Linked DNA regions of Homo sapiens. The protein of the gene in region 2 interacts with the protein of the main gene of each other region in a biochemical or structural test. Each region holds a gene or a part of one and is shown on either strand. Other genes may lie near its edges.

Region 1 (3,658 bases), on a different chromosome or scaffold from region 2:
GAAATATTTCTTCTCAGCCATCAAGTGAAAAAAAATTCTATTATAAAGTAGGTCTACCATAAAGTAGGTCTTCCATGTACCACAGGTAGATATTTAATTTTATTTGCAGGCTTTCAGGAGCCTGAACCCTGCGTTTTTTGGATAGTGAACTGATTCCTGCTTTTTTTGGATAGTGAACTGATTTTCTTTTTTTTTTAAAGAATTCAGAGAATTATACAGTTTACTTTTGGCCCAGTAATTCCACTTTTAGAAAAATATAGATGTGTATGAATATATTCAATGTGGCAACAGTTATATTAGCCCCTCCTCCAGTTAGTTTAATATGTTAACCTCATCCATTCCGTGAAATACACTGCTAATCATTATGAAAACGCTTTCTGATAACATTTCATACATTTAAAAAAATACTAGGATAGCTTGTAAACAAAATATATACAATGCGTTATAATTTCAACTTGGTCAAAACACACTCAAACTCACATTTACACACAAACACATACACAGAAAGAAAGAGAGAAGAAAAAAAAAAGGCTGCAAGGAAATACATCCAAAATGTTAACTGCAGTATTCAAGGGTGTTTGGATTACAGGCAACTTTTCAGAATTTGGAAGAAAGTCATGTAAGCTACTTGGCAATCAGAAAATGAATCAATAAATGTTACTTATTTAGAACAACAGGCAAACTTCATTAACATTTGAGGGTTTTTTCGTCTCACAAGTATATCCCCTCTCCTAAATTCTGGACTTGCATTTTCAACTGCCTCCTCAACATACCGTTTGGATATGAGATAGGCCTCTAAATTTATGTCTAAAATCAAATACTCAATTTCTCCCCCAAATTTCCTCCTTCCCTAAACTCTTTCCCATCTCAGCAAGTGATAATTTCACGAATCCAGTGGCTTCAGCCAAAACCCTTGAAATCATAGTGGACTATTTTTCTCACATCCCACGTTCATTGTGTCACCAAATCTCATGATGTTGGTTTTTAAAATGTGCCCAAATCTGATCATTTCTTACCACCTTAAGTGTCACCAGCCTAGTCTGCTAACTGGTCTCCCTGCTTCATACTTCCCCGCTACAGCCTTTTCTCAACACAGCACTAGCGTGAGTCTTTTAAAATGAAGTCAGTCATATTGCTCTGCTCGAAATACTCCAATGGCTTCCCATATCCCATGTCACTTAGGAAAAATTCAAAGCTTTTGCCTTGGCTTAGACAGCCCTTGGCCATCTTTCTCCTCTCACTGTTCTCCCTGCTCCCTCTCACACATTGGTTCCATATCAAGGTATTTGCACTCACTGGTCCTTTGTTCTTGAATGTTCTTCTCTCACATATGCATATGGATTCCTTCTTCACTCAGTCAGTTCTCTGGGTCCAGTACAGTCTCCTCAGAGAGGCCCTGTCTTTAACCATTCCATCTAAAAGTAGTCCTCTTTCTGCCACATTCTATCTGGTTACTCTGCTTTGCTCTTCGTCCTTGCATTTTTACCTCCTTTCATAACATTTATGAAATATGTTCACTTTCTGGCTCCCCCACTAGAAAGTAATCTTCATAAGAGTGACTTTCTCTGTTTTGTTCAAGGCTCTGTTTTGTTCAATCACTGTAGGTGCTCAATAAATATTTAATAAATGACCAAAAAATGAAAAAAGTACACAATAAAATTTTGAGGGACCAATCATCTAGCCAGCCAACTAGCCATCAGCAAAATCTGATGCAATCATACTTTGACACCACTGGAGAAAGAACGAAACATTGGGGGATAAAGGGTTAGTTTCCTCTGGCCCACACTTAAGCTCTGTCCTCCCTGGGCAGGAAGTAGTTAGTAAACAGTAGTCACTGCCAAGGTTTCCTTTTCACTGTCCCCTTCATTTCACCATAAACAGTAGACCCAACCTGAGCTAGAAGGATCTTAGAAACCACCCGTTAATCCAACCCGTTACTTCAAAGGAGAGATGATTTCAGCTACAGAAGTCAAGGTCAAATCCAAGACCAAATGTTTCTGTGCTTCATCCATTGCTCCATGGAAAGGTAGTGATGGGGGTAGTGGGGGAAGGAACAGTATTAACAGCCAACACTAATTGAACTCTTACCATGTGGCAAGAAATGTTCCACATGCTGTACATGTCTTAACTCATTTATTCTTTCCTGTAACTCTAAGAGATGGGTTCTACTTATCTCCATTTTACTGCTGAGAAAACTAAGGAACAGGCAAGTTTAGCAACTTGCTCAAGTCTACCCAGTAAATGGCAGAGTGGATATTTGAACCCAGGCCATCTGGTACCAGTCTATGAGCTAAAACCAAATCCATATTATCTCATATATAATGAAATGGTGTGTGCTATTGTTAATGACATTAAAAACTTTTTATCCCCATGGTATAATTAAAAAACTAACACTTCAATTTACAGTCTGTCTCTCTGTCCTGAATGTGTCTAGCAAGCAGCATTTTAATACCTACTATTTCTGCCAAAACTCGGTAAACAGGCTCTCTGTTCTTTCTTGGAGGAACAAAGGGAAAGATTTTAAGCCAAATTTGGACAAAACCAACAGCACTTTGCCTACAGCAGTTTCTCAACCTTGCACCCAGAGCCTCGATTCATGTCAGAAAATCTTTCAGTAAACCAGTGAAAGATCCAGATGTGGGAAAGAAATATAAACAAGGCACTGCCTTCCCTTCACCTGCAGACAGAGAAGAACCAAGAGTGATGGGATTTCACACTAAGAGGATGCTCGTGGGTGAAGAGTTTAAACTTCTTGGAGGAAAATTTGGCAGAAACTATCCAAAACTTGAGAATAGTACTTAATGCTGGACCCAGCAATTCCACTTTTAAGAATCTATCCTTAGAAATGCATCTAAAGATTTGTCTCTGTCACTCATAAAATTGTTTATAGGAGAGAAAAACTGGGAAGATTCTGAAAGTCCATTAGAATTCTGATCAACTGCATATATTGTTATTGACTTAATATAAATTATTGCATATCTATTTGATGGACTATCACATAGCCACTGATGATGACATCATGTAGTCACTGAAAATGGGGTTAAAAAGCATATTACGAAGTATTTAATATACCATGTCCCATTAAAAAAAAAAACAGTTTTTGTACAGGAAAAAGCCTAGCAAGATGTTAAGATTATTGATAATTTGCTTCCCTTTGTGTTTTTCTGTATTTTACATTTTTTTTAAATGACTGTATAACACTATGATCAGTTTTAAAATAGTAATTATAAATACTGGGTGGGGAGAGTGGTATGAAATGAAGACATGATTGCTGCTTTTACAGCTTGCTAAAGAAAGTGTTCACCTTGTCTGAAAATGCAAGTGTTTGGAATGGCAGTAGTCCAAATTTGAGTCCTTGCACAGGTGAAAGACTCGAATTTCTACCCACTCATGAGATCCTAGCAATTATTTTCTATAGCTTTATACATCTTACCAGAGGACATCTGTCCTGGAGCAGTAGTTTTATACTACTTAAATTTTAAGATCTATTCTGCAGATGTTTGATTCAAATCTTTTTCAGAATAATAAAAACTATAATAAACAAAACACACTCAAATAAGCTAGTACTAACATCAAGATATGGTTGATGTGTGTTGCTGGTTTAACTAGGTTTTGTAGAGCCCACAAACTGAATGTTGGCCTGAGACGGTGAAGCCAT
Region 2 (3,658 bases):
CGTCCATTACAAATGGAAAATAACATATAATTTTAAATTTTTAATAATTATATTGTTTCATAAAATTACTTAATTGCCTAGTTAAAAAATATCCAGCTCTCTCTGTTCCCAGGCCCAAACTCCAACTTCTACTTCTTCTACTTAGAATCACAGGATTTCAGAGCAAGGAAGAAATATCTCCTTTCATATATACATATATATTTATTTTGAGATGGAGTCTCACTCTGTCACCCAGGCTGGAGTGCAGTGGCACCATCTCAGCTCACTGGAACCTCCGCCTCCCGGGTTCAAGCGATTCTCCTGTTTCAGCCTCCCGAGTAGCTGGGATTATAGGCGCATGCCGCCACGCCCGGCTACTTTTTCGTATTTCAGTAGAGACGGGATTTCACCATGTTGACCAGTCTGGTCTCGAACTCCTGAGCTCAGGCAATCCACCCGCCTCGGCTTCCCAAAGTGCTAGAATTACAGGCATGAGCCACTGCGCCCGACCTCCTTTCCCATATTTTAAAGATACAGAGAGGTTAAGTAATTTGGCCATAATGATCTAACTACTTGCTAGGATTAGATACCAATTTTTCCACTGTTTTTTTCCTCAAATATCAGTGCCAACAGAAAAAGAAACAGAATTTAGCAACAGAGGACTACACATGGAGGAAACACAAAGAAAAAGTAATCTATAGCTTTGTAATTCACATAATGTTTAAAAGACAGTCTGAAGTGTTTTTCTCATAAAATTTTATAAAAATGATTGTGTTCTCTAGAGAGAAGGAAGAGGATAAGGGGGGGGAACCACTCAGGATTAGAGAAAAAAAGTCACTGTACATATCTCATATAATCAACACTTGTCATTCTCAAAGCTCAAGACTGGTTCAAGATTACACCCTATGAAATACAAAACAAAACCCAAAAAGCAGTTTCAACATCTCTTACCTGTACAGAGAAGTCCATCTTTGTAGTAAAGTGCATACACTCTGGCACTGTGTCCAATTAATGACGAGGTTTCAAAGGCTTCATGGTCCTCCAGTTGCTTCATTCTCAAAATAGCCTTCAAATAAACCTTCTTCCAGTGCAAAGCGTCCTGAACAGAATCATCTATCTGCCAGCCCAAATTTTTACATGCAGTCTGCCACACCTCTGTACAGGCACTTATCACCTTATTCCACTGTTTAGAGACGAGGCAGCATGTGAGTAAAGTCTGAGGATCGAGCCATTTTAACAAATAAAAACTGAGCTCCAGGGGAAGGAGTTTGAGGAAGTCCCGCTTGAGGAGAGTCTCTAGGTTATTGGAGAGATGCCTGAGCTGGACTGCCCCACTCAGACTAATCAGGTGATCCAGAGTTTCATTTTTCTGCAAGTCCGTCAGAGAAAGAAATGTAACAGAAATGTTATCAAGCCATGTCTCAAAGTCCTTTCTCTCCATAAGGTTATGGAAAAATTTACCTGTGGCACATCAAAATATTGTATTAGTTCTGCTCAAAAAGACTGTTCAAGCAAGACTGCTAACAAATGAAGTATTAAAAATTAGTGTAAAAAATCTGCCATTACAACTTTATGCGTAGTTACATTACAACTTTACAGTTAATACACCATATTTATCTGAACACTTTCCATGCACACAAAAGAAAACACATTTGAGAAAACATACTTTAACAAATCATGAATCCAAAACATGTCAGTGAAACAGACTGGCGTGTGTGACTTATTCCTCTTGAAGTCTAGCACGTGCTACATGCATCTTCATAGTAATAGATTTACCAACAATTCATTATAAAACAGTATATTTTACAATACACCCTTCCCCCATCAAAACCATTATAAAACAATTTCCTTAATGAATTCCTTAATACATTCTATTTGGGTACTAAAATCACAAAAGCAAGCACCAGGATGTGACAATCAGAAACAGTCTCCTGAGCAGTAACCTGAGACACTGATTGTCATGGCAGGCACAACCTGTCACCAAAATCATAGAACTGACTACTTGGTTTTGCAACAGATGTTCAGATGAAAAGGTTTAGGGAAGAAAAGCAGGTGTGGTAAGTTATCTGCCTCAGGAATTCTGGTTCTTCCAACTTCTTTATGGCACTGCCTGTTTAGAACATGAATTATAAAAGAACTTATGTGGCTTTAGTCTGTTTTTCTAAACCTCATATGAGCTAGTGACAACTCTTAACCACGTGCCCCCGAGAGCCATGAGGGGTCCTGGAGGCCTGCACAAATAAAGCAAATTAATAATCCTGATGTTTATAAAACACCAGAAAATAGACATTATCATCTTCACTTTGCAAATGAGGAAACTACAGGTTAGAGAAGGTATGTGATTTGCCTATATTCACAGGGCTACTAAATAGCCACAGAACAGACTGGACGCCAGTGCTCTCAAGATCAGGTACCAAGCTCTCTCTCTAAAATAAGTGACAACCAGGAGAACCACGACCAAGTGGTAAGATCTGGAGGTAGTGTGTCTACCCGTTAGACCATTTTCTCCTTTAGGAGAATGACAAATTGCTCCTGAGCTAACTGTAACAAATAATTTTTTTTAAAGTATCCTGTATTAGTGTCAACAGGTGTTAATTCACTCTTAATGAGGATTAGACTAATGAAAGATTACAAAAAATATAACCAGTAAAAACTATCTTTCTCAAGACTATGTGTTGATAGATGTTAATGCTGGGTGATGTGTACATAGGGATTTATTATTCTCTTTATTTCCATATATTTAAATATTTCCATGGTTTAATAAAAACTTTCCTTCTGAATACTCAGTTTCTCACAAGACTGTCATATTAATTTTAAAAACATATGTCCAAATTAATGTGAAAAAGGAAAGTTAATTTCTTTCCAGACATATCACCTAGATCAGGTCTACACAAAAAGCAAGATCTCATCTTTCAACTTTGATAATGTAAGGTGAGTAAAATTGTAAGTGTCCAATATCAAATTTGGCAATAACATTCTTAGACAAATAAGCAATCTGATTTATTAGTAGAAGCAACCAAACCTTGCAATCACATCATCTGCTAACAGTTTTGATTTCTGGAACTGTGACTAGACTTCAAGATAATACGTTTCAAGCCAAAGTTTGGGCTAGAGAAGATTTATTAATCTGTATTAAAAATTTACCTAGCTGACAAAAAATAATCAGATGGCTAAAAGTTTTATCGACTTATCACGCAATAACAAGCCCCCTCCTTCCTCTAAATCCTAACAACCCTCTTATCTATACAACATTTCTTCAAAATCTCTACTTCTAAAAAATAATAATTTGCAACAAGACAAAGCAATTATCTTCTGTGGGCATCTGCATATTGTCACAATAGCTAGTTAATTAATACTGGTCAATTAAAAACACACACCAGGCTGGGCACAGTGGCTCACGCCTGTAATCACAGCACTTTGTGAGACTGAGGTGGGCTCGGCCGGATCACGAGGTCAGGAGATCGAGATCATCCTGGCTAACACAGTGAAACCCCATCTCTACTAAAAATACAAAAAATTCCCCTGGCATGGTGGTGGGTGCCTGTAGTCCCAGCTAGTCGGGAGGCTGAGGCAGGAGAATGGCGTGAACCCAGGAGGCGGAGCTTGCAGTGAGCCGAGATCACGCCACTGCACTCCAGCCGGGGCGAGAGAGCAAGACTCCATCTCAAAAAAGAAAAAA

What was found. The genes of interacting proteins can lie anywhere in the genome.
Region 1: of the proteins of FBXW2 (region 2) and SKP2, one has a biochemical effect on the other in vitro, tested with the Homo sapiens proteins (one study listed by BioGRID).

Annotation. Positions count from the first base shown.
Region 1 is NC_000005.10:36,172,487-36,176,144, reverse strand, and holds part of SKP2 (S-phase kinase-associated protein 2), read right to left. Parts: intron 1-3,658. UniProt on the Homo sapiens protein: Substrate recognition component of a SCF (SKP1-CUL1-F-box protein) E3 ubiquitin-protein ligase complex which mediates the ubiquitination and subsequent proteasomal degradation of target proteins involved in cell cycle progression, signal transduction and transcription.
Region 2 is NC_000009.12:120,786,839-120,790,496, forward strand, and holds part of FBXW2 (F-box/WD repeat-containing protein 2), read right to left. Parts: intron 1,441-3,658; coding exon of another isoform or gene 1,421-1,440; coding exon 931-1,420; intron 1-930. UniProt on the Homo sapiens protein: Substrate-recognition component of the SCF (SKP1-CUL1-F-box protein)-type E3 ubiquitin ligase complex.